5 separate regions of the Homo sapiens genome follow, and regions 1, 2, 4 and 5 are each linked to region 3. The links come from fine-mapping of genetic effects on gene expression. A gene starts in region 3. Each other region holds a variant in brackets. All regions are shown on one strand. Distances are from middle to middle. Region 1 has its middle 19 kb from the start of PWP1. Region 2 overlaps ABTB3 (ankyrin repeat and BTB domain containing 3). Region 3 holds the start of ABTB3 (ankyrin repeat and BTB domain containing 3). Region 4 overlaps ABTB3 (ankyrin repeat and BTB domain containing 3). Region 5 overlaps ABTB3 (ankyrin repeat and BTB domain containing 3).

What was found. PIP is the estimated chance that this variant, and not a neighbour inherited with it, causes the effect. A credible set is the group of variants that fine-mapping cannot tell apart.
Region 1: its variant is the best candidate, but not a certain one, in a credible set for the expression of ABTB3 in whole blood (INTERVAL, PIP 0.69).
Region 2: its variant is the best candidate, but not a certain one, in a credible set for the expression of ABTB3 in esophagus mucosa (GTEx, PIP 0.84).
Region 4: its variant is the best candidate, but not a certain one, in a credible set for the expression of ABTB3 in whole blood (INTERVAL, PIP 0.56).
Region 5: its variant is the best candidate, but not a certain one, in a credible set for the expression of ABTB3 in esophagus mucosa (GTEx, PIP 0.61).

The regions. Positions count from the first base shown.
Region 1 is chr12:107,663,409-107,669,451 of GRCh38, reverse strand. No RefSeq gene overlaps it. Among named protein-coding and RNA genes, the nearest start is that of PWP1, 19 kb to the left of the region's middle. The variant C/T (reference allele first, on the strand shown) is at 2,520.
Region 2 is chr12:107,399,196-107,404,195 of GRCh38, reverse strand. The region is part of intron 1 of ABTB3 (ankyrin repeat and BTB domain containing 3); the gene reads right to left. Among named protein-coding and RNA genes, the nearest start is that of ABTB3, 83 kb to the right of the region's middle. The variant G/C (reference allele first, on the strand shown) is at 2,635.
Region 3 is chr12:107,314,810-107,320,674 of GRCh38, reverse strand. ABTB3 (ankyrin repeat and BTB domain containing 3) reads right to left here and starts at 2,241. Exons shown (of 17, transcript NM_001018072.2): 1 at 600-2,241. The coding sequence starts at 1,734. RefSeq lists an enhancer at 1,020-1,739.
Region 4 is chr12:107,466,844-107,471,843 of GRCh38, reverse strand. All of the region lies in intron 1 of ABTB3 (ankyrin repeat and BTB domain containing 3), which reads right to left. Among named protein-coding and RNA genes, the nearest start is that of ABTB3, 150 kb to the right of the region's middle. The variant C/G (reference allele first, on the strand shown) is at 2,542.
Region 5 is chr12:107,377,919-107,382,918 of GRCh38, reverse strand. The region is part of intron 1 of ABTB3 (ankyrin repeat and BTB domain containing 3); the gene reads right to left. Among named protein-coding and RNA genes, the nearest start is that of ABTB3, 62 kb to the right of the region's middle. The variant C/T (reference allele first, on the strand shown) is at 2,857.

The DNA.
Region 1 (6,043 bases), 350 kb before region 3:
TGGTCTCAAACTCCTGGGCTCAAGCAATCCGCCTGCCTCGGCTTCCCAAAGTGCTGAGATTACAGATATGAGCACTGTGCCTGGCTTGATCATATTTTTCAAAGCAGTGGAGAGGAGAGAAGCATCTTATTCTCTCCCCTCTCTCTTTAGAGGAGGCATTGTAACTGAAGAGGCACCACAAAGAGTTGGGCTTAGAGGTCAGGTCAGCCTAGGTCCACATTCCCTCTCTGCCACTTTTTAGCCTTGTTGCCTCCACCTCAGTTTCCCTATCTGTAAAAATGGGAATCAAAATTCTTACCATATAGGATTTATTATGAGAAGGAAGATAAAGGCATATAAAGATGAGCACAAAATATAAAGGAATGGAAAAGAACAGCCTCCCATGTACTGAAAATCGTCCATGATGTTTCAGTCACATAGAGGCATCTCCGATGCAGCACACAGAGGCATGGCATTCAGGCATCATTTCCACTGCCTCTGGGATGAAATGTGACAACTGGCTGACAGTCACATAGTCACATTCCCTCCCGAAGAGCTCAGAGCAGGAGATGAACAAAATGCTGGGGTCCTCGGGGACTCTGGGGAATGAGGCTGTCAAGAGAGTGCCGTGAATCAAACTGGAGCCTGGTGGATGAATCCTCATACTCCAGAGTAGACTAAGAGTGCAGCCAGTAGACTGCCTCAGGCTGATGGCTTACAGAGCCACTGCTGGCCTTTGGGGACCTGAGGCTGCTGGGGAGGTGAAATTAACCAACCCATGATAAAATCGGAGGTGGCCATGTCCAGGGCACAGAAAATCCCTCTCTTCCCTCTTGCTTCTCCCTGCATTTTGACAGAGCTGTCCCTTACCACCATTGCTGCAAGAGTGCCTCTCCATCACCTGTCATGTTAATGTAATGACATTCCCATTCTGCAGGAGGGAAGACTGAGGCGGACAGGAGACCTCACTCACCAGCCACTTATGCCAAACCAATGCATGACTCATGGTTTTTCTTTGTTGAGTCCAGTTTAAAAAATGCATATGAGATGTGGTGGACGTGTGCAAATTCACATACCTGGATTTCATCCCACTCTCAAAAATGGCCCTTCCCTAACTTGATCGTTTTGCTGAAATGCATTTTTTTCTTTATAAAAAGAAGTTCTATTTTTCAGTGACCGAATTGCTTCTAGCTACTTTTTCCCTTCCCAGCTGGTAAGGTTTTGTGGACAATTTTTCTTCCTTCTGTATTAGATAAGTAAGAATAATGAATTGATCCGCTGCCTCACAACCTGATGAAGATAAATAGGGTGGCGTGCTGAAATAAAATGCAGCAGTGGCCAAAAAATGAAGGCTGGGAGGTCATTACAAATTCTACGTAAGCTATATCAAGATTGATATTCATTTTCTGAGGCCAGATGATGTGTATCAGAAGGAGAGAACTAGTAACGACAACACCCCTGAGTTGTCAGGAACCTTTAAATTCTACACTCCCTTTATTGCTTGAATCTCTATCGAGGGGTTGGCTAGCATTTTCTGGAATGGCTCCTGTCATGGAGAACTCACTACTACCTCCTCATTCCATCTTTGAAAAGCTTTGCTCTGACTGTTAAGAGTTCTTATTTATACTTAGGTGAAATCTAAATCCTTGAAGGGTCTGTCGCTGGGACAGCTCTTATCCTTTTTATGATACTGAACAAGCTAGTTCCTTTCTTTTCTTTTCTTTCTTTTCGATGGGGGTCTTGCTCTATTGCCCAGGCTGGGGTGCAGTGGCATGATCGCTGCTGACTGCAGCCTCTACCTCCCAGGCTCAAGTGATCCTCCCACTTCAGCCTCCAGAGTAGCTGGGACTACAGGCATGAACCGCTGCACCTGGCTAATGTTTTTAAAATTTTCTGCAGAGATGGGGTCATACTGTGTTGTCCAGGCCAGTCTTGAACTCCTAGAAACAAGCAAACTTCCTGCCTCAGCCTCCCAAAATGTTGGTATTACAGGCAGGAGCCACCACACTCAGCCCGATTCCTCTTATCTATGAAGCCTGTTCTGCTATTTGAAGACAACTAAAATTAAGATGGTCACCTAAGTATTCTCTCCTACAGGCCAAACATCCCAGTTCCTTTGGCTGTTCTTTTTTTTTTTCTTTTTGAGTCTCGTTCTGTCACTCAGGCTGGAGTGCAGCGGCATGATCTCAGCTCACTGCAACCTCCGCCTCCTGGGTTCAAATGATTCTCATGCCTCAGCCTCCTGAGTAGCTGGGATTCCAGGTGCCCACCACCACACCTGGCTAGTTTTTGTATTAGTATTTTGTTTTTTTGTATTAGTAGAAATGGGGTTTCATCATGTTAGCCAAGCTGGTCTCAAACTCCTGACCTCAAGTGATCCACCCACCTCGGCCTCCCAAAGTGCTGGGATTACAGGCATGAGCCACCACGTCTGGCCCCTTTGGCTGTTCTTTCACCTTTGGTTACTCCCTTCTGATGAGGCTGCATTTTCTCTGTGACTTTCGTCAAGCACAGGGGCCATTTGTCATGTTCATGGCTAC[C/T]CACCATCTTTCTATATTTGTAGAAATCACACAGTAGATTTCCTATCTCCCTAATGTAGTGGCAAGAACTGAAACTGCCAGCCTCCCTACAGCTAAGGTGCAGGCATGGGACCTAGGTTCTGCCTGTCAGATGTGGATGTACCCAGTGAAATTTTGATACTAAAGGGCCAACATGAGGAGATGGGAGCTTCCATTATGTAGTGCAAGTAGAGGCAGAAGCACTGAGCTTTTTCGGGTCGGCTGAGTTCCTGATGTAGGAATGACACTGGTGCTTGTGGAAAGAGCAGTCACTGAAGCCAAGTTTCTGGGAGCTACAGAAATGCCGTTAGTGATTTCTGCCTCCATATCATTTGGTGGAAGCAGTGGCAGCAATGAAGACAACTAAAATTAAGATGGTCACCCAAGTCTTCCCTCCTACAGGCCAAACATCCCAGTTCCTTTGGCTGTTCTTTTTTTTTCTTTTTGAGTCTCACTCTGTCACTCTGTCGTGGTTTGTAAGTTATTCCAAAAGGCTCTGCCTTTAATAGTTTCTCCAGCCTTCCCAACAACTGTGTAATCCTCTAATAGTTTCGAATAAACCCTCTTTCTTCTTAAATGAACCAGAGTTGCTTGCTGCTAGAAACCTTGACTCATACAGGACATGACCTGAGTGCATAATTCCAGCAGAGAGCCCTCCAGTGCACAGAGGAGCACCATCACCTCCATCATTCTAGCAATCATGCTTCTATTAATGTAGCCCACAGCTACATTATGGGCTTCTAAGCAGCCACATTATGCAGCTGACTTACATTAAACTCACTGGTCACCTGAAATCCTCACATTTTAGGGGCAAGGAATCATTCCTTGGCTCAAGGAATTTCTAGAAAAAACAGACTTCATTTACTTTCTCATTACTTATTCAACAGAAAACACTATCTGAGCTTTTCCCTTCCTCAAACAAAATATTTAATGTATGAAAGCAAGTCCTTTGAAGTGCCAAAAATGCAGTCGTTCCCTTCACAAGTAAACAAAATAATGAGTAATTATGGATTAAAATCCTACCACTTTTTCTTCTTCCCCACCCACTCATTCCCCATAGCATACAACTGAGAAGTATCAGGGTCACCCAGCAGCCATTTTGAACCAGATACTCCAGCGTCCCTCTCCATTATCAAAGTGTTGTGAAGTGAACAGGGAAGGGGCAGCAGCTTTGATTATTCCCTTGTTGATTCTCCTGGGTGTCCCTGCCACCCCAGGGGGCTCTGTGAGTGCAGAGAGAAGCCTCGAAGCATAGTCTGAAAATAAACAGGAATCTTTTCTTTTCCTTCTGCCGCCAACCCTGAAGGAAACAGGACAAAGAAAAGGGATGAGGTCACCTTTGGTTACCTTTGGTTAATGCCATTGCACAGGAGTGGGTCTCTCATTTATATTAGGGCATCAGTAAATACCCGTGAAATAAATAAACTTGATTTAGATAAACAACAGACCAGGGAAAAGTAAGGTAGAGTGAGGTTATGTGTGAGTAATTCCTTAGCTTAATTCAGACTGTTAGAGCCCTCCACCTAGGAAGACAGGATTACATTTATTTATTTTTAAAATTATACTTTAAGTTCTAGGGTACACGTGCAGAACATGCAGGTTCGTTACATAGGTACACATGTGCCATGTTGGTGTGCTGCACCCATTAACTTGTCATTTACATTAGGTATATCTCCTAATGCTATCCCTCCCCCCTCCCCCCACCCCACGACAGGCCCCAGTGTCTGATGTTCTCCTTCCTGTGATTTGCTGCACCCATCAACCTGTCATCTAGGTTTTAAGCCCCGAATGCATTAGATATTTGTCCTAATGCTTTCCCTCCCCTTGCTCCCACCCCCCGACAGGCCCTGGTGTGTGATGTTCCCTTTGCTGTGTCCATGTGTTCTCATTGTTCATCTCTCACTTATGAGTGAGAACATGCGGTGTTTGGTTTTGGAAGATAGAATTTCAAATGATTTTTTTTCAGATGCATTGTGAAAACGTCTCCCCTGGGTCAGAAAGAAAGGCTCGTAATAACCCTCAAGGTTGAGACTCCAGAAAGGCCAGGTGACAGAACAAGTGTCACAGGTTGGCCTGGCAGCAGAAAGGGTTTGAGATGAATCTCTGACTTCCAGACTGCACACCTTTGCTACTCAAAGTGAGGTCCCTGGACCAGCAGCAGCAGCAGCAGCGCTGGGATGCTTGTTAGAAACAATGAATTTCAAGCCCCACCCCAGCCCCATGGAGTCATTTTAACAAATTCGAGAAGCACTGCCCTACACCATCAGTGAGATGTCTAGAAGTCATCAATTACAGAAAGACCTAGTTTGGGAGCAGCCTGGACAACATAGTATGACCTAATCTCTACAAAAAATAAAAAAATTAGCCAGGCGTGGAGGCTTCCACCTGTGGCTACTCTGGAGGCTGAGGTTGGAGGATAGCTTGAGCCTGGGGAGGTTGAGGCTGCAGTGAGCCGTGACCACGCCACTGTAATCCAGCCTGGGTGACAGAGAAAGCCCCTGTCTCTCTCTGGTTAAAAGGTGACAGGATACCGGGGAATGCTACTCATCAATGAAAAGGAACAAGCATTCCATACGTGCAGGCTCCTTGGATGGGTCTCTGAGGCATTCTGCTGGGTGCAAAAAGCCAGTCTCGCCGTTTGAGGTGCTAACACCCGTAATCCCAGCATTTTGGGAGGCTGAGGCAGACAGATTGCTTGAGCTCGGGAGTTTGAGACCAGTCCTGGCAACATAGCGAGACCCTGTCTCTACAGAAAATTTTTTTAAAAAGTGATCTGGTAGTGGTGGTGCATGCCTGTTGTCCCGCTACTCAGGATACTGAGGTGGGAGGATTGCTTGAGCCCAGGAGTTTGACACCAGCCTGGGCAACATGGTAAAATCCCTATCTCTACAAAAATAAATAAATAAATAAATAAAAATTAGCTGGGCATGGTGGCTCATGTCTGTGGTTCCAGCTACTTGGGAGACTGAGTCGGGAGGATTCTTGAGCCTGGGAGGCGGAGGTTGCAGTGAGTTGAAATCACACCACTGCACTCCAGCCTGCGCGACAGAATGAAACCGTGTGTCAATAATAATAATAATAATAAAAACACCAATCTCCAAAGGCTGCTTACTATATGGTCTCATTTACATAACATTCTTGAAATAACAAAACTATAGAGATGGAAAACAGATTAATGGTTGCCAGGGGTTTGGGATGAAGTTGGTGGAGGAAGGGCCAGAGTGATTCCAAAGGGGTAGCATGAGGGAGATCTTTGCGGTGAGGGAAGAGTGACAGTGGTGGTGGTTACACGAATCCACACGTGGCAAGATGTCACAGAACCATACACACACATTGTAGCGATGTCAACTTCCTGGTTTGGATATTGTACTAAATTTATCTAAGATGTTACCATTGGGTTACTCTGTACTATCTTTGCAACTTCCTGCGAATCTGTAATTGTTTCAAAATAAAAAGTGAAAAAAAAAAACCCCAAACCAAAAAGGAGATGGTAGTCATGTAGCAAT
Region 2 (5,000 bases), 84 kb before region 3:
TCTTTTCCTTTTTTTTTTTTTTTTTTTTTTTTTGAGTTAGAGTCTCTCTCTGTTATCCAGGCTAGCATGCAGTGGCGTGATCTCAGCTCACTAGAACCTCTGCCTCCCGGGTTCAAGCAATTCTCCTGCCTCAGCCTCCCAAGTAGCTGGGGTCACAGGGGCCTGCCACTACGTCCAGCTAATTTTTGTATTTTTAGTAGAGACGGGGTTTCACCATATTGACCAGGCTGGTCTCGAACTCCTGACCTCAGGTGATCCACCTGCCTTGGCCTCCCAAAGTGCTGGGATTACAGGCGTGAGCCACCGCGCCCGGCCATATGCTGTTTACTTCTGATTTGGGTAGGGGGGCAGGAAAGGAGGGTCTCTCCCTGGCATTTTTAGAGTTCCCTAGGAAATATGTGGCCCTTTGGAGAGGTGGACCCTCCAAACTTCATTGTCTGAAGTTTTCCTCTGCCCTCTGGGATCTGCGACTTTCAGCTAAGCCTGACTGCAAAGTGTTCCCTGACCATTTGGTCTGTGCTCCCAGATAGCTGTAAGTTTTTAAAAACAAGAATAATGTATCGGTGGAAGCTTTTGTCAAGGATAAGGTGAATAACATTTATGAAGTGTACTGTTGACACACAGTTTACAGACATGATCTCATTTTATTCTCCCTATAGCCCTAGGAAGTATCACTAGGTATCTGTAGGCCCATTGTGGGAAGAGTAAACTGAGGCTCACAGGAGTGGTGAAGGCACTCCCTGGGCTGAGGTAGCTGATAGGGAGATGTAGTAGCTGGTAGGAAGCTTTAGCACCCATCTGCCAAGCTTCCTATGGATTCTGGAAATAGAGCCCGGTGAAACAACCCATTACATTTTCGGTCTGTGTCATTCCAGGCACAGGGATATTATAATGAAGAAGGCCTTATGCAAGTTCAGGTCTGTCACTAATGGGCCATGGGCGATATGAACATTTCTCTGCCCTTACCAGGCCTTGGTTTCCTCATCTGTCAAACGGAAGTAAATGGGGCCCACTTCACAGGGAGCCAGGAGGATTCACTGATATACGTGATCTCTAGACCATGCCTGGGATATTACAGGTCCCTCATTAAAGGGTATTCACACAATCGGAATGAATGACTTGGGTCCGAGGCCTGTGGGAGCCCTCTCCACAACCTGGAGCAGATGGAGGAGAAGAAGGAGCAGGATCCATGTCTAAGACATGTTGTGGCTGGTGACTACTGTACTCCTGTCCCACCTCCCAATAGCACAGCCTGGGGGTGGGTGGGGGGACAAGCCAGCAGCAGGACAGACTCAAAAGCCACTGTCACTATCCTGGAAATAGTTGGTCCACAGGTATTCAATTGACTGGGCCAGTCATAGAGCTGCAAATCTAGAAAGAGGAGGAATTTAGGAGGTAGCAGAAGGGGCAAGGATGTCATTAGTTAGGAATTCTGTCTGCAAGGCCTGGCTTCAGGTGAGGAGAGCTGGCAGGCCCACAACCTCCCACCAGTCAGAATCCTGGCGGCGGAGGCAGTGGCTTGAGAGAGGTAATAAAGCAATGTTTAGGGAGCCAGGGGAGCTGCAGCTTGGTTTTGGCACTAGGGGGAGCAAGGTGCAAGACTGAATAAGAGCAAAAAGCCCCAGGAAGCCATTTGCAGGCCAGTAGCCGTGGCTGGAACATGGCTTTCCATCCAGGTGAGGAAGGAGATGGGGTACCATATCCCAAGGGCCCTCCATTACTTCACTTTATCCTCAAAACAACCCTAGGAGGCAGCTGTCAGGAGGACCACTTTACAGATGAAACAGCAAAGGCTCAGAGAGGTTAAGACTCAGCCTCTTAGGCGGTCAAGCCAGATTTGGAATCTGGGCCTGCCTTTCTCCTGGGCCATCCTTTGCCCACATGAGAGGCAGTATCGTTAAGCACATAAGCTGCAGGGTCAGACTGCCTGGATTCACATTCCAGCTCTGCCACTCAAAATTGTGTGGCTTTGTGTAAGTGATTTAACCTCTCTGAGCCTCAGTTTTCCCATCTGTAAAATAGGGTTGGTACTACTACTAAGAGTCCACTTTCCATTGTTGCTGCACTTTATTCACTTTATTGAATAAAGTAACTAGCACATAGCAAAGATGAAGCAAAGCAGCAAATGGTGGCTGTTATCATAATTACTTTTTTACACCGATCTCCATCAAGACCAGCTTAGGAGTCGAGATAGAACTGGGCTAACAGGCAGGGAGGCTTCTGAGGAGGGCAGAGGGTAGGGAAGCAAGGCAGGAGAAGGCAGCAAAAAAAAAAAAAAAAACCCTAAGCGGTTGTTACCTACTATATAAAGAGAAGAAGCTGAGGGTAAAAAACTCTACACACATAGGATTTTAAAATGAAAAAGATTCCTTTTATTTCTTATTATTTTGCTTATTATGTTATTTTCTTATGTATAAAGCAGTGATGCTCAGACTCTAGAATTTCGTCAGTCAGGAATTTCTCCCCCACATGGAGATTAACATTAGGGGCCAAATTTGTGTTATGTCAAAATGCCAGAGGCAACCACTGATAATCATCTTCATCATTTTGGATTTTTTAAAGGACATTTTAACCCCAGGGCATCCGCTCAAGATCAAGCACCAGCCTTTAAATTTAATACATTTTGCATCATGG[G/C]AGCACTCACTACTGTGCCATTATTTCTGTCTCTTTTTGCCAGACTACTGAAACCTTGGGCAGTGACTGACCCCCTGTGATGGGGTGTTCCTGGTATTGAATATCCCCCATCCCGCCACTTGGGAATGCTGGTGACTGGAGAGGTGTCCATTTCCTATAATTACTGAGTGTTAATATAATCACCAAAGCGGAGAGCCAGCTGGAAAGGATGGAGTCTGACATCCGAAAAGACAGACAGCTAAATAAGTCATACGGCTTGCAGACAGCCTGGCTGCTGGGGTTACGTAATCACCTCCCCTTGGCTTCCTTTGGTTGGTCTAGTTCTTGGTTTGGCCTTTTTGTGCTTTTGCTTTCTGAGGCTGAGCCTCTACAATAGGCAGAGAAAATATTGCACATGAAAAGGAACCCATTGGGAAACATGGTACAGACAGCCACCTCATTTGTCTCCAGGCTCAGAACCAAACCCCAGGTTTCCATGAGAGCTGAGATGCGGCCAGGAGACAAGTCTTGGTACTACGTGGTCCTGCATGTGAATGTGGACATGGTCATCAGCCTGGCACATGTGGGTAGGAGGTAGGGACCGGCCCTTCTCAGATGGCTGATCGCTCCTCGACAAACTCAGTTAATGCATTTTAATTTGACCAGGGCCTTTCGAAACCAGGCTGCTTAGGGAGGCAGGAAGTAATCAATTCACTGCCAGTCCATTTTCCTCTGGGCACCGGATCTGCTTGTACAAACCAGCGAAGGGAGATTAGCTTGAGCATAGCTCAGCAGTGAACTGGGTAAAGGTCACTTCACTCAGGTAGCACTCTTGCGGGGGGGTGTAAGTCTCTCTTTGTATACTTTGCGTGTCCCTAAATAACAGCCATAACCAATAACAATGGTAACACTGACCACTTACCACATCCCAGACACCATGCTCTGAGTACTTCATCTCACTGAATGTTCACACATGGCAGGAAGTAGATCCTATTACAATTCCCATTGTACAGGTAAGGAGACTCGGGCTAGAAAAGGCGAAATTCAAGCGAATGGCCACATGCATGCAAACAGACACAAATGTCACTGTACCTGCTCAGCAAACATAAACAAGAACAGAGAAATCATGACTCAGTGTTTCTCAAACCCACCTGTATATAAGGGTTACCTGAGTACTTGTGAAAAACACAGATTCCTGGGTCCCCACCTAGAGCTACTCAATCAGAAATCCCAGTGGAGAGGCCTGGCAACCTGAGTTGGTCATGAATGCCCCCTAAGCATCTCATCATGGGCCCATTTGAGTGTTGATCATATACATATCATCGAGTAAGTTAAAATATGTAAAGCAGAAATACCATTTGACCCAGCAATCCCATTACTTGGTATATACCCAAAGGATTATAAATCATTCTACTATAAGGACACATGCACACGAATGTTTATTGCAGCACTATTCATAATAGCAAAGACTTGGAACCAACCCAAATGCCCATCAATGATAGATTGGATAAAGAAAATCTGGCACATATACATCATAGAATACTATGCAGTCATAAAAAAGAATGAGTTTGTATCCTTTGCAGGGACATGGATGAAGCTGGAAACCATCATCATCAGCATACTAACACAGGAACAGAAAACCAATCACCACATGTTCTTACTCATAAGTGAGAGTTGAACAATGAGAACACATGGACACAGGGAGGGGAACATCAGACACTGGGGCCTGTCGGGCTGTCGGGGGCAAGGGGAGGGAGAGTATTAGGACAAACACCTAATGCATGTGGGGCTTAAAACCTAGATGACAGGTTGATAGGTGCAGCAAACCATCATAGCACATGTATACCTGTGTAGCAAACCTGCACATTCTGCACATGTAGCCAGAACTTAAAGTAAAATAAAATAAAATTTTAAAAAATATGTAAAGCATGTGGGCCAGTGCTGGACACAGAATCGTAGCTGCTATCATAGTAGTAGTAATTGTTATCATCATTTTTTGTCAGGTGATTCCACTCATTCTTTCAGTCAATGAGCTCATGCCCAAAATGAGGGGGAGATGGGTGCCTGGACTCTTCTGCATCCTTGGGTCCCCCTGTTACCAAGTGTTCTCCACTCCCAGCCCTGAGTATGAGTCTGGTGTTCAAAGACAGAGGCAGAGCCAGGTTTGAACAATGGAGGGAATGGGTTTGGGGGGTGGGGTGCTGTGCCCCTGCTTGGGGAGCTTCTCGAGATCCTGTTTCCACAGTGTTCCCTGACATCCTTTGTTCACGATCCTAGCAACCATTGTGGCACTGTGTTACTTAAATATCTTCAAAAAAGAATCACTCTTGGAGAATGTGCTCAGTGGGTACCGCTGCATTCCTCTTCTCCAGCCAGCTGGGCTTCTG
Region 3 (5,865 bases):
CCGACAAGTCTTCCCGCACCCCAGTCTCACCACACACACCTTTACGACTGTCTAGGCCGTGCAAGCTTTCAACCATTCAGCCGGTACGGCCGCCAGGCCCCTCCTTCCCCCGTGCACTGCGTGCCCCCCGAGGGAGTGGGGAAGTGGGAGCACTGGATTGCGGAGAGCGGAACGCGCCTCCTCCCAAGTCCTAGGGAGCCCAATTCATGCGCCCAGGGAAGTGGCATCTTCAAGGTCAAAACAAACAGTGCAGGGGTGGAGTATATGTACTAAGCGCAAATGATCTCAACCCTGCTCCAAAAAATGGTGCTGGGTTTTGCTCACTGCCTGCTGGAGGCAGCTGTCGCCCCGCCCCGCACCGGGGGCGGAACCTCGCGCTCCCGGACCTGGGACAGCACCAGCAGCGTGAAATACGCGCACCCGAGTGCAGGAGCAAACAGGCAACCTCTTGTTCTGGCTACCTCCAGCCCGGCCGCCTCCTCAGCGGCTTGGGACAGCAGCGCGTGGCTGGGAAGACGCGGGAGGGGGACGCGAGGCAAACTTGCGCCAAGAGTTGGCCAGGTTAGGTGAGAGGGAGTGGCACCCGCGCAGACACTTACCGCTGGCGTTCTTCCCGCAGATCAGGTGCTGGTAGGGCTGCAGGAGACCCCAGATCTCCGAGTCGTTGTTGACCGTGTGCTCCAGGGTCTCCACGGTGAACTTGGGCGCCTCGTGGAGCGCATGGTGGTGGTGATGGTGGTGGTTGGCGGCGGCTGCCGGCGGGACTGCGGCGGCCGCGGCGGCCGGCGGGGCGCAACAGCTGCTGCCCCCGCTGGCGCTGCTGGCTGCGCTGCAGGCGCCGCCGCTCGCCGCTCCTCCCCCGGGCGCCTCCCGCTCTTTATCCGCCGCGGGGGCCGCACCAGGGCCCGAGCTCGGGCCTGGGCCGGAGCCCGAGCCTGACCCAGGGCCACTGCAGCTCCGGGGCACCCCGGAGGCCACGACCCGCGAGTAGATGTCCCGGAAGAGGCTCTCCATGCAGGCTGTCAGGTAGATGGCGGCGTGCTCGTGGATGCGCAGCGCCACGCGGCTGTCCACCATCCAGCGATACACGCGGCCCACGGAGAAGGTGAGGCCGCAGCGGGCCGACTTGCCGCGGCCCAGGCGGTCGCCGCCGGCGCTGCTCATGTTGTAGAGGGACAGTGCGGCCAGCGCAGCCGCCGTACAGTGCGCGGCCAGGCCCCAGGACAGCACGATCTCCATGGCGCTCTGGATCTCGTACTTGGTGCACTTGGCGAAGCGCAGGCTCAGGCGCTGCGCCTCTTTGGCTATGCGCACCAGCGCCCGGCTCACCAGCGTCGACAGCTTGGCCAGCGCGTCCTTGGGCAGGCCGCCGGGGACCGCCGGGCCTGCCCGGGGATCCCGCGAACGCAGCAGCAGCGCCTCCAGCTCCTGGAGAGTCCAGGGGACCTCGTCTAGGTCCGGCAGCAGCCGCGAGCAGTGCTGGCCGGCGCAGTCCAGCCCCTCGGAGTCTTCCACCAGGGCAGTGTTGACAGTGTCAAAGCTGTTGTGCCGGCTGTGCATGGAGTCAGCTAGAGGCGGCCAGCAGCTCCCGCCATACGGGGACGCCGGGTGCGAGTCGGAACAGCACAAAGACAAGTTGGAGGAGCGCACCGAGTCCGCCGCGCCACCATAACCCGAGTCCAGCGTCAGATCCTCCAGCGTTCTCACCACGGGCTTCTTACCTCTCCTGGCCATCGCTGCGCCACTTCATGCTGCAGCCGCCTGGGAGCCAAAGGGAAGGAGCGGCGAGGAGCAGCGAGTGCCGCGGGGCGCGGGGAGAGCCGAGTCCGCGCCGCCTTGGCTCACTTTTCCACTAGCCGCTGCTACCAACTGTTAGTACTTTCGGCTGCCTCCCGGAACTGCCGCCGCTGGAATATACAGAGCAGACCCTGGAGTCATCTTCCAGAGTCCGGGCCGGAGCTGGGCGCAATGGGGAGCGAGCCAGGCCGGGAAGGAAGCTCCCGCCGGGGCTTGCCCCTTTCTTCCAAAATAAAAAGTGTCTAGACCGCTCTTCCCTGAGCCCCGCTGGGCGCAGTAGCCACCGGGCGCCGGCCACGGTGTTCGTGGGACTGAGACCACCCCAGATGCCGCCGCCGCCGCAGCTCCGCGGGCAGCTGGCTCCCGGCTCCCGGCTCCCAGTTCCCGGCCCTGGTTCGCTCGGCGCCAGCCTGCCCTGCACCGGAGCGCAGCAGCGGCCGTGGCGGCTGCAAACCTTGCCGAACCCCAGCAAACCCCGGGCAGCCAGTGGGACGGGCGTATGCAAAGCAGGGGCGGCGGAGAGCCAGTGGAATCGGAGAATGCTAATTACCTCGCTTTTTTTTTTTTTTTTTAAATCCCTCCTCCCCATGCGGCCCCGCCCCTCACACACGCCCCCGGCGGACACCGAGGCTGCAGGAAGTGGGGAGCAGTGGCCAGGGACTTGGGGAACCCTTGCAAGCGTAGAGACGTGGATGCTGCCCCCTGCTGCTGTCCCTGCCCGCATTCTCCCGGAGGGTGGTGGGTTGGGCCGGTGACCTCCCCACCTAGGTGTGCTCTCCACCGCGGTTCACAAGGTGTCTGCCTGACGGTCGCTCTCTCCCCTGCGGTTCGCATTTCACTTTTTTCCCCCCGTAACACCTGAAACATGGTTTTCCTCCCTCTCTATTCCCACTTCGGGTACGCAAACCAATTAGTGCGGCCCTCTTTCAGCCGGGGTTTGCTCCAGCATGGAGGGAAATAAGCCTGTCGAGCGGAGGCCCGTGGCGGTGGACACCACTGGGAGGCCGGATCTCCGGCCATTCGCCACCTGCCACTAGGGCGCGTTAACTCGATTCCTTTCAGTAGCCAGGAGGACCCTGTCCCTGCTTCAAAGTCCTGGGCGTGTGCTGCAGGGAGGGCTCAAGCACCACTTTGCCATCCTGGTGGGCATCTTTCCAAATAGCTCGGCCTTCTTAAAAGGAGTAAATTTGCTCAAAGGAGAATCTTCTTTCCTGACTAAAGAAAGATATAATATATATATGCATGGCTTAGCTGCATTCCTGTGTCAAATAGCATCGTGTCATCTACTTGTCTGTCCCCACCCACCCAGGCAGAAACCATATCTTACACACATGGGGATTCCTAGCTCCGCACACTGTGTCTCTCAGCTTAGAATCCCCTCCTATAGGAAGCTGGCCCAGATGTTTCAAGACTGGCTTCGGTGCTTCCACTGCCTCTATCCCCTTCTGTGGTTGCTGATTTCTGGGCCCTTGCAACACTAGGTTGCAAAAGCCTGGTTACTTGTCTGGATTCTACACTGGGCTAGGGGTTCCCATGCATAGTCCTGGCACAGTATAAGTGCTCAGTAAATATTTGTTGTAAATTGATGAAGGACGTAAGGATATGCTTTTAAATTGTTGCTTTGAATGTTCAACAATGGCCAACAGGTATATGCAAATATGCTCAACATCACTAATCATTCGGGAGATGCAAATCAAAACCACAATGAAATATCACTTCACACCTGTAAGGATGGCTATTATCAAAAAGTCAAAAGATAACAAGTGTTGGCAAGGATGTGGAAAAAAGAGAACCTTTGTACACTGATGGTGGGGTGTAAATGAGTACAGCCATTATGGAAAACAGCATGGAGGTTCCCAAAAATAAAAATAGAACTACCATGTGATCCAGCAATCCCACTTCTGAGTATACACCCAAAGAAAATAAAATCTCAGTCGAGTGCAGTGGCTCTCGCCTGTAATGCCAGCACTTTGGGAGGTTGAGGCGGGCAGATCACTTGAGGTCAGGAGTTGGAGACCAGCCAGACCAACATGGTGAAACCCCATCTTTACTAAAAATACAAAAATTTGCCAGGCATGGTGGTGCACACCTGTAGTCCCAGCTACTCGGGAGGCTGAAGCACAAGAATTGCTTGAACCCAGGAGGCAGAGGTTGCAGTGAGCCAAGATTGCACCACTGCACCTCAGCCTGGGTGACAGAGTGAGACTCCATCTCAAAAGAAAGAAAAAAAAAAGGAAAAGAACATCTCTGTCTTGAAGGGAGAGATGCACTTCCATGTTCATTGCAGTTTATTCACAATAACCAAGATGTGGAAACATATCTAAGTGTCCATCCACAGATAAATGGGTAAAGACAATGTGGTGTGTATATATCTGCAATGGAATATTATTCAGCTCTAAAAAAGAAGGAAATCCTGTCATTTGCAGTAACATCATGAACTTGGAGAATATTATCCTAAGTGAAATAGGCCAGACACAGAAAGACAAGTACTGCATGATCTCATTTATACGTCGACTCTTTAAAAAAAAGTTGAACTCATAGTAACAAAAAGTAGAATGGTGGCTACCAGGGGCTGGAGTGTGGGCAAAAAGGGGACAATATTGGTCAAAGGCCACAAACTTTCAGTTGTAAGATCAATATGTTCTGGAGAGCTAATGTATAGCATGATGACTATAGTAAATAATAACATGTTATATACTTGAAATTTGTTAAAAGAGTAGTCTCACATGTCCTCATCACACACAGAAGGTAAATATGTGAGGTGATGGATCTGTTATTTAGCTTGATTGTGATCATCATTCACAATGTACATGTATGTCAAAACATCACATTATCCACCCTAAATATAGATAATTTTTATTTTTCAATCATACCTCAGTAAACCTGGGTGGTGGTGGGAGTCAATAGACTTTCTCAGATAATCTCATGAATTGTCTCATGTTTCTCATACCAGTGAGCCTCAAATCTGCCATTGCCCTATAGCTGCTATGCTCATATACATGCTGATCACCTCCCACTTTGACTATTATACTTTCCTACCAACTGGTCTCCTGTTCTCCTGCCCCTACCTTCTCCAAACCATCCAGCCCAAGAATCTTCTGAAAGCCTTGTTTTCATTTTATCATTTTTTGTAATTATCAAAAAAGAAATTCAAAGGCTCTCCATTACCTTCCAGATAAAGTTTCTACTGATTAGCTGAATTTCAGGGATCTGTTTCCAGATCTCACTGTGTTTCCAGACTCTTTCCATAATATCATAAACCTTTATAAGGGATGGATGGCAAGGATGTGGAGAAAAGGGAACCCTTGTACATTGATGGATGGCCAGAATGTAAATTGGTACAGCCATTGCAGAAAGGAGTATGGAAGTTCCCCCCACCCAAAGAAAAAGAATAAAAATGGAACTACCATATGATCCAGCAATGCCACTTCTGAGTATATACCTAAATGAAATAAAATCTCTATCTTGAAGAGATATTTGTACTTCCTCTCTAGGGTCTCATCACCCCAGCCTTCTGAACACACACTCACACTCATGTAGACACACAGATATACACAGATACACTCACACACCTACACACAGAAACATGCATGCACTCATAGGCAGGCATACTCACATACGCATGCACCCTATGCTGCGGCCATCCTGAAATCGCTTGCTGATTTTCCAAGGTAACATATTGTCTCTTGCATCTGATATGCCTTTGCAAATGCTGCTCCCTTTGCTTGTGGCATTCTTCTCGCACCTCCACTTCTCCATCCTTCCTTCTCAACCATTAATGTTCAGATCCAAGCTTAGCTCCACTGTGTTTTCCCTGATGCTGCCTCTTCTCCACCAGCCCCGACCTGGGAAGGTGTCCCATTTCTGAGCTTAGGGCTTGTTCCCAAGGCCTTTCTCTCTTCTCTGTATGTTTCCCTGGTGATCTCACCTACCCCATGCCTTCAGCTACTATCATCTATCTAAAGTGATGAACACTCAGTAGAATGCAGGCAGCAAGAGAATCCTCATTTTCTCCATGAGGGAAAAACCTCATGGAGAGGGAAAAAGGGACTGAAAGCAATGGGCTGT
Region 4 (5,000 bases), 150 kb before region 3:
AGCTTCAGAGCAAGGGAGCCCACAGTCTGAACTCTAGGCACGGGGGCAGAGTTAATGCCCACTCAGCCCCTGAGCCTCACCACGGCTCTGTGAGGGGTGTTCTTCCTCCTGTTTCATAGAGAGGACACTGCCTGACCTGGGGGGTCATGGAGGGGAAGCTGCTTCTGTGTCTCTTGCCAGGGATGCCAGGGTCATTTTGTAATGCTCCTCATTTGTAAAAGTTACAGATTGCAGGCAAAGCTCACACCAACCTCAAAGTACTGCTACTCTAAGGATTAAATAGAATGAAACAGAGAAAGGGCTGGGTACAGAACCTGACACACAGTAAGGGCTCAATACCTATAAGCTGTTATTTTTACTACAACTACCTCCTCTCTTTTCCTCTCCCTTTTTCTCCTCTTGACCTGCAATGGGAGCCTGTACTTCTGTACCCAATCCTAAAATTCTAGGAAGATGAAAAGCCAACTTCTATTCTGGAAGATTAGGTTCACCCAGATAATCCCTTATGTTCCCAAATCTTGTGACCTCTCTTATCTCCACCACTTGCTGGTTGTGTGGCCTTGTGATGGTTACTTCACTTCTTTGTGCCTTGGTTTCCTCATCTGTAAAATGGGGAAATAACATCTTTTATAGAGTCCTGGTGAGAACCATTGAATGAATATATTTAAATGCTAAGAATAACACCTCACTAAAAGCACCATAGAGGGGTTTGTTATTCTGAAAGTGTATGCGGAAAACGCTGAGCACTGACTATGCACTTGCAGCCCCATCCATCAAGCCACGCAGCAATTTATTATTTATCAAATGCCCCCTTCGTGCCTGGCATGCTCAGTACATCACATCTGTTCTCTCTGACAACAACAACTGCTCTAAGGGGCTGGGGATACAGTTGGGAATAAGACGTCCACATCTCACCCTCCCTTTCCTGTCACCCCCAGATTGGCCCAAGATCTCATTTCTCCCAGCTGGCTGGTGAGGTGTCGGGCTGGCCCCAGCTTTCCAGATGGCTTGGCACCTTCTCCGTTCTGGGTGGGATTCCACTCCCCTCGCTCTGGCCACCATCCCAAGTATCAGGGGCAGACCTTCCCCACTGAGGCCCAGCCAGCCAGAGCCAGGCATTGGGAGAGGTGCCACCAGGCCAGGGTCGGTTAATTTTGTCTTTAATTAGCAATCATGATAAGTGACGAGGCCCAGCGGTGACCCTGCAGATGGCAGTGTGCTCTGCTCCGAGTGACAAGTTGGGAGCATCCAGGTCTATGAAGGGTCCATGCTGGTTCCTGTGGCTGCACTGCCCACACCGTGACCCTGGGGATGGGGGTGGCTTGGCTGACAGCCAGGCCCTCCTCGGGGCAAAGGACACTGGGCCCGAGTGAAGGTGGGGAGGGTAGGCTCTCAATGTTCCCTGGGACCCCAGACTGGCTCATCCCAACCAGATTATTTGAGAGGAAGGAACTAAATATTTTTGAGCCCCTACCATAAGCACCTTGCTAAGAAATCACAAGGATCAGCCAGGCACGGTGGCTCACGCTATAATCCTAGTACTTTGAGAGGGTAAGGCGGGTGGATCACTTGAGGTCAGGAGTTTAAGACCAGCCTGGCCAATGTGCTGAAACTCCATATCTATTAAAAACACAAAAATTAGCCAAGTATGGCCATGCACGCCTGTAATCCCAGCTATTTGGGAGGCTGAGGCATGAGAATCACTTGAGCCTGAGAGGTGGAGGTTGCAGTGAGCCGAGATTATGCCACTGCGCTCCAGCCTGGGTTACGAAGCAAGACTCTGTCTCAAGAAAGAGAGAAAGAAAGAAAGAGAGAGAGAGAGAGAGAGAGAGAAAGAAAGAAAGAAAGAAAGAAAGAAAGAAAGAAAGAAAGAAAGAAAGAAAGAAAGAAAGAAAGAAAGAGAAAGAAAGAGAGAGAGAGAGAAAGAAAGAAAGAAAGAAAGAAAGAAAGAAAGAAAGAAAGAAAGAAAGAAAGAAAAGAAAGAAAGAAAGAGAAAGAGAGAGAAAGGAAGGACGGATGAACAAGGATCATCACTGCCATTTGAAGTTGCCATTTTTGTAGATGAAGAAAAATTGAATATTGACACTTCTTCAAATGATTCAAGCTATTATTACCTAATAAGTGCTCGTGTGTGCCAGGCACTGTCCTTATATTAACCAGTCAAATCTTCACAACCACCCTATGAGGTGGGCACTGCCTGCTGCTGGGGGAACCTCAACTCTGTGGCTTTGTGCTTCAGAGTTGAGGGCTTCTTTGAGAACAGGCCAGTCTGATGCCTCGCCCTCTCCACCCCCGTACATGACGGGCACTGTCCTAAGTAACCGACATGCATCACCTAACTTACTCCTTATGGGAACCCCATCAGATGGGTGCCAGTGCTGTTCCCATTTTAGGGATGAGAAAATCAACTCTCAGAAAGGCTGGACAGCTTGTCCAAGGTCCTGCACCTAGCAGAGGGCAGAGCCAGACCAGGATTTGAACCCTGGGCTACCTGGTTCTGCATTCACGCCTCTATTGGTGAGTCAGCAGATGTGAGGGTTA[C/G]AGGAAGCTCAATTCCACCCCTTCCTCCCACCTCTGTTTTCTGGTTTTGGGAGCCAACCACCCACAGGAAACACACATTCTGCTTCTGGGGTCCCATCAGAAGCAGATGTCTGCAGGGGAGGCCTGTGGCCGTCCAGAGCTGCTGGTGGCCGGAGTGGGGTGAGTCACAGTGTCTCATGCCGGGGTCTGTGTTTGGAATCCCACTTCAGGCCCCACAGGTAGCCACATCCCTTAACCCAGCCCTCACCCATCAACAAGGGGATGTTGTTATCCTTGTCTTCCTGCCTACTTTTGCGGGTGTGGGAGGACAGGTGTTATTTATCGAACCTCTGAAATCCCTACAGTGATCAGCCCCCTTTCACAGATGAGAAAGCTGAGGCACGGAATGGTTGTGTGACCCGGATGTGAGCCTTCAAGGTCATACCACCCTGCTCGTGTCTGCTGTACCACATCATGGGTTAAGATGCCTAGAAAATGGGTTGCATTTCTGCCCCTATATCCTGCTCCATTTTTTTCATAGCACTCGACATCATCAGAAGTTATAGTATTTATGTCTTTATTTACTTATTTTTTCCTATCTTGTTCATCTTTATATCTCCTTTGCCCAAAACACTGCCTAACACACAGTAGGTGCTCAATAAATACTTGTGGACTACTAAGAAATGGGCGCTCCCTTCCACTGAGTATGGAATGCCCCTCAGCTCACAATCCGCAGCCCGTCTTTATAGATGGTTCTCTCTCACCCAGCCTCAACCACAGTGGATCTTTGAAGCAGCATTGTTTGTTTTCAAGGTCACCCTCAAAGTCTCCCGTGCCCAGCTGGCAGCTCCCAGCAGCAAGCTACTCACACGCAGGTCCCTGGCTATCTGCAACTTCCTGTGGCCCTGGTGGTCTCCTGCTAGAAGCTGGAGCGCCTTTAAACTCTTTATACTCACAAGGCCACTGACTGGTCAGCTTCCCTCTCTCCCAGCATAAGAGGGAAAAGAGTGCCTACCTCCTGCCAGGCCCACAGAAGTGAAAAATAAACACCCCAGCCGGCTGGCTCCAGCTCACCTGCACTCTTGCCAGGGAGTGCTTGGTCTTCAGATTTTCCCCTTTTTTGCTTGATTAATACAACACCAATTCCCTGCTGCCCAGCCTTCTGGGAGGCACATTTTGCCCTTAATTCAGCTGACCTCAGCTCGTGAGCTAAAATCAGGGAGCAGAGGATGACTGGCGTTTCTCGGTTGTGAAAACCATGGATGCATTTCAGCAAAGTCTAAGAATCTTTCAAGCCAAGGCAATGACGAGGGGTCTCTGCAGGTGCCTCCTTTTCTTCTTCCTGCACATGGGGAGAGGGGGGCCTCTTCTGGTCTCTAAATGGAAGCGGATCACATCTGGAGGGATCAGTTGGTGGCCACATCTTGAGCCCTCTGAAGCCAGGCAAGCCTCTGTTGTTTGTTTAATAGCGGTCAGAGAAAACGTGTGGGAAACAGTTCTTAGTAAACAAAAGGAGGGACCTTTGATGTAAACAGAAGCATTTTCTCCTGGTCTTTTCCCTAAAGTCCCTGTCTCTGACAGAGATAGGCAGGAAAAAATGAACTTTGCTTCAAGAAGCTGGTTTCTCTGGATCCCTGAGTGGATCATGATATAGCTGGGTCTTGATGTGTGTTGGCATGTGTGTGTGAATGTGTGTTTGTGTGTGTGTGTATGAGTGCATGCACATACATGTGTCAGTGGCTGTGGAGTAACGCAGAATCCAGGTGTTTCCTAAGCGGGTCTCGAAGTGGCTTCTGCCTAGAGTCAATAGGTGAGATTCAATTCGTGAACAATTATCAAGTGCTCTGGTTGTTGCTGACGACAAGAAGGTGCCAAGGCTGTCAGGAGTTTACAGGCTATCTATACCACGCCAGGCCACACCAGGCTTGTGGGGGACAAGGGATGCCTGCTGGGATCACTGGCCAGAGGTAGGCACGGCTGCTGCTTGTTGGAACGGCACATTCTACAATAACAAAATACAAAGGCCCGTTTTCTTGTGGGCCCCAGCTAAGCCGAAAACAGACAGCTGTGCGGATGACTTGCCCACCTCAGCTAGGTGGTCAAGGCACCTCAACTCTTCAGACAGCAAACTTGAGACCACACTCTCACACCAAGGGGTTTCAGAGTTTGGGAGCTCATTATACCAACAACATGGACAGCTCCCGTTTATTGAGGTTTCACCACGTGTTGGCTGGACAGTTCTGAGCCCTTCATTTGAATACCCTGACTTTTATCCTCCTCAAAGACACTGTGAGTTAGACACTACAATAGACAATCACATTTCCAATGCCCTTGGGGCCAGAGGTGTTTCAGATTCAAAATTCTTTGACTTTCAGAAAGACGATATGGTGAACATGCTGTGCCTTGAATGCCCCCAACTTCTCTCACTGTCCAGCCAACTCCTATCCATCCTTCAAAGGCCACTCAAATGCTTCTTCCTC
Region 5 (5,000 bases), 63 kb before region 3:
TTAATTATTATTATACTTTAAGTTCTGGGATACACGTGCAGAACATGCAGGTTTGTTACATAGGTATACACATGCCATGGTGGTTTGTTGCACCCCTCAACCCATCACCTACATTAGGTATTTCTCCTAATGCTATCCCTCCCCTAGCCCTCCACCCCACAACAGGCCCCAGTGTGTGATGTTCCCCTCCCTGTGTCCATGTGTTCTCATTGTTCAACTCCCACTTATGAGTGAGGACATGCAGTGTTTGGTTTTCTGTTCGTTTGTTAGTTTGCTGAGGATGATGGTTTCCAGCTTCATCCGTGTCCCTGCAAAGGACATGAACTCATCCTTTTTTATGGCTGAACCCTATAGTCTCAGCCCAAAATCTCCTTAAGCTGATAAGCAAGTTCAGCAAAGTCTCAGGATACAAAATCAATGTGCAAAAATCACAAGCATTCCTATACACCAATAATAGACAAACAGAGAGCAAAATCAAGAGTAAACTCCCATTCACAATTGCTACAAAGAGGATCTTTTAAAAAGGAGCCAAATCCCACCACACGTAGAAACATCTAGTGGCTTTGCACCCAAACCCCTTCCCTTGACAGACAAGCCCTGTGTGCCAGGTCCTGGCCCATCTCTCCTAAAGCCTCCCTCCCCTGGGCCCACTATATGGCAAACACACTTATCCTTGCAGGCCTTCGAAAGCATCCAAACTCATTCCTAGTAAGTCACCTCCTCCAGGGGGCCCTTATGGAATGCCCAACCTGAGGGAGTCCCATCACCTTTATACATCCCCACTCTAATTCTCTTCTTGGTCTTATTGCTGGCCAATTTGTTCTTGTTAATTTATTTCTTCATTTATTGTTTTTTTCTGCCCTAATTAGAATGCAAGCTCCATGGTTTAGGTATGATTTGGTCACGACTGTATCTCCAGCCTGGAGACCATAGGGGGCTCAATAAACATTTGTTGAATGAGTTATAATAAATTGCACATATAGAGTAGTTATTACATGCCAAGAGCTATCTCTGCGATTTACATAAATTAGCTCATTTAATCCTCCCAATGCCCTGCTGAGGCTGATCCTATTATCATCCCCATTTTACAGCTGAGGGAGCTGAGGCAGGAGAGGTTAAATAACTGCAAAGTCACAGAGCTGACAAATAACAGAGCCAGGATGCAAATCCAGAGGTCTGGCCTCTTAGTCCATGCTCCACACACCACACCATGCTGCAGTCAGAATGGTTCCCCCTGCCCTTAGGATACAGCCCCAACTCCTGAAGACAATGTGGAAGTGTTTGATGAACAGATCTAATCTCCTTTCCAGCCTCATCCATTGCCATTAATTCCCTGACACTGCCCAGCCCTGAGGAAGACGCTGCCCTCTCTAGTCTCTTGTATCTGCCCTTGCTGTTCCTACCCGGAGCTCTCCTCTTTCTTGGCCAACTCCTTCCTCAGCCTTTGGGTGCCAGTGTAGGCAGCCCTTCATTAGGAAGCCCCTTTGCATACCTCAGGCTGGATCAGATGCCCACTTGGCATCCCCAGATTACTCTGCCCTTGCCCTAACCCTGTACACAGCACACTCTTGTGGGGCATGTGTGTTCACCTGTCTGCAGAGGCTCCACATCCATTCATTTGTTTCAGCAAGTATTTAGCACATGCCCCTGAGTGCCCAGCCTGCACTTCTAGGTGCTGGGGAGACAGTAGTGGGCAAACCCAAGTCTCCACCTATGCAGACCTATCTTTCTAATAGAGGAAACAGACCATAAACAAAAATGCAATATAATATCAGGGAGAATGATGAAGACAAAGGCAGAATAGAGGAAAAGAGAGTAATGATGGGGGGTGGGTAGTGTAGACAGAATGGTCAGGAACAGCTATGCATTCATTAAACCAGTGGTCTCCAAACAGTTTTGATCACACATCCCTACCATTCTTATATATACCTCTCTGATATGTGACTATATATTTAATTATAGATTATACCAAACCTATAACTGAATATATAGTATAATATTAGAGACATATACATAGCATATATAACATTGTATATAATATACTGCTGTACTACCATATAATATAGGTCATTATAAAATATACATAAAGTATATAAATACTAAAAGGATGAGAAAAATGTTCTAAAACATTCCTCTTGCCCTTTCGTGCACATTCACGCATGTACCCTGTTTTAGAGACTATTGTGACAGAATGGCAGCTCAGCTCAGGGTTAAAAAGAAAAATGCAGACAAAGAAACAAAGCCACTCCCTGATCCTTGCTAATTACACTCAGCAGGCACCCCAAAATAATTTGTCAAATGACTCGGCATGGGGTTCAGTAGATGCTAGGTAAATCAGCCTTAGACAGGTCATTTCCTAATTCTTGGTGTCAGTTTCCCCATCTGTAAATACAGGGCGTGGTCCTCTTTCAGACCACACAGAAACAAAAACCTAGGTTCAGGTTCACTCAGCCTGTTCCCTGACCAAGAAGGGGCCAACTCAGTCATGTTGGGACACGCAGCCAAGTTCTGGTGTGGGCGGGGCTTTCATCTGCTGGCTTTTTATTGATTTTTACTGGTTTACATGGAAGGAAAAGAATGCAAACAAAGAAACAAAGGCACTCCGTCCCTAATCCCAGCAAATTATACAGAGATTCAGGAGAGTAATGAAAACCATAAAGCATGCTCTGAAATAAGAGCTCCCAATCTTCCATAATCTTCGGTGATAAAACGCAAAGCAGCAGGCCAGTGACACCCATTCGTAAACACTGGTTCTGTTTACCAGCGCTCAGTTCAGAACACGTTTGCTGGTGCTGAGAACCTCTACTGCTGTACTGCACCCCGGGAGTTAAGGGCAGGTCTTTTAAGGGTCACAGA[C/T]GAATCACAGCATCGCGCAATGCCAGGGCTGCAAGGGGCCTGAGAATCTGTTCCGCTGGAAGGTGGATAGATGGCTGCAGGTCTGCTTTCCTTCTGAACTGCAGCCAGACACAACACTGTGAGGTGTTGGGGTGAATATAAGCCCATCGTTCAGTTAAGGAACTTGAGCCCAGATAAATCAACCTGATCCAAGGACATGGAGCAAGGAGTGGAGCCGAGATTCAAAGCTAAGGCTTCCTGGCAGCTTGTCCAACTGACCCTTGTTCTTCTAGAGGGCTCTGTAAGCTCCTCAAGGCTGAGTCAGTCTTTGTCATCTCTCTGTTTCCAACTGTCCCAGCACTAGGCTTTGCTGGTAGTGGGTAATGATTAATATTGAGGAAGGAAGAAAAGGAATGAGAGAGGATGGGATGTGGGGGATACTCAATTTGTGGCTGGTGTATTGGTCCATTTTCATACTGCTATGAAGAAATACCTGAGACTGGGTAATTTATAAAGAAAAGGAGGTTTAATGGATTCACAGTTCCACATGGCTAGGGAAGCCTCACAATCATGGTGGAAGGTAAAGGAGGAGCAAAGGCACGTCTTACACGGCGGCAGGCAAGAGAGTGTGTGCAGGGAAACTGCCCTTTATAAAACCATCAGATCTCGTGAGACTTCTTCTCTATCACAAGAACAGCACAGGAAAAACCCACCCCCATGATTCAATTACCTCCCACCAGGTCCCTCCCATGACACGTGGGGATTATGGGAGCTACAATTCTAGATAAGATTTAGGTGGGGACACAGACAAACCCTATCAACTGGTCTACTAACACCAAGAGCAATGCCAACAACCAGGACCATTTATGGAGCCCTTACTCTGCACCAGGTGGAGCAATGTGTGCTTTAAATGCAATGTCTCACCTACTTTTCCACCAACCCTATGGGAGTTTACTATTATCCCAATTATATAGAAGGGCAAAGGGAGGCTCAGAGAGGTTCAGTAAATTGCCTAAGGTCATTCAGCAGGTACATGGTAAGTCCAGGATGTCAACTTTGATGGCTCTGGTGCTTAACCACTACACCACACTGCCTGCTGCTGTGAGCAAAAATCAGGCTTCTTAAATTCCTTCTGGCACCATCTGTTACTCTGTGCTACAAAAGCAGGGGTGGCTCTCACATCAGATGCAGGCAGAATCCCAGTGACTCCTATTTTACAGCCTCTTAGGGAACCCCAATGCTTGTCCACAGGGCATGGCATGCAGCCAAAGACCCATCAGGGGACGTTTTCACAAGTGACAGAAGATCCATTCTTAGTCCCAAAGACAGAGGGAGCCAGCACAGTTGTAGGTTTGGGCATGAACAGTCAGGATGCGTTGTGACAAGGGAAACAGGGAAGGCGAGCCAGTGTGTGGAGGCAGAACTAGACAGCTCAAGGGGAATGAGGGCCGTAAGGGGACAAGGTGAGAGCCAAAAACATGAACTGGTGGGCTTCTCCAGGTGGAGGGGACTAAGAGGATGGGGTGCATTGTTGGACAGCCCTAGCTCCCCTACTTACTTGCTATAAGACCTTGGACAAATTACCTATGCTCCCAGAGCCTCAGATCCTCATGTATAAAATAGGACAGTATCTGCCTTATAGAGTTGTTATAAGGATGAAATACCATAGTGTACATAAATTGCTTTAAGCGCAGGTCCTGGCATATGGTGAGTGCTCAATAATTAATAGCAATTTGTGGTGGCAGTGGTGCAGTCATTGCCAAATGATGTGCAAAGTAAGGGGATGAGCAGGGAAGATGCCAGGAGGAAGCAATCCCATCATCCCCCAATATTTAAGTGACTTGAGGTTAAGAGACCATGTCTGCCTATAGCCAAGCCAAAGAAAGTGGTTAAGGGACATGCCCAAGGTTGAGTCACAAGTGTTTTCTGGACAGGGACCACAGCTGAATCATCTAATATTCCAGCCGTTGGCATTGGCTTTGCACAAAGGAAGCACTCCACTGGTGTTTGTGAAATTTACACATGGCTTGGTCTCCCGAAGTCCATAATGAGATTATGTTCCCCACTTTTTCGCTTTGCATGGTTCCCTTTTACTTCCCTACCAGATGATTCACTTATCTTCTTCCCACCCTTCTTGAGCGTCAAGTGTGTGTTGTGGTCCTTCT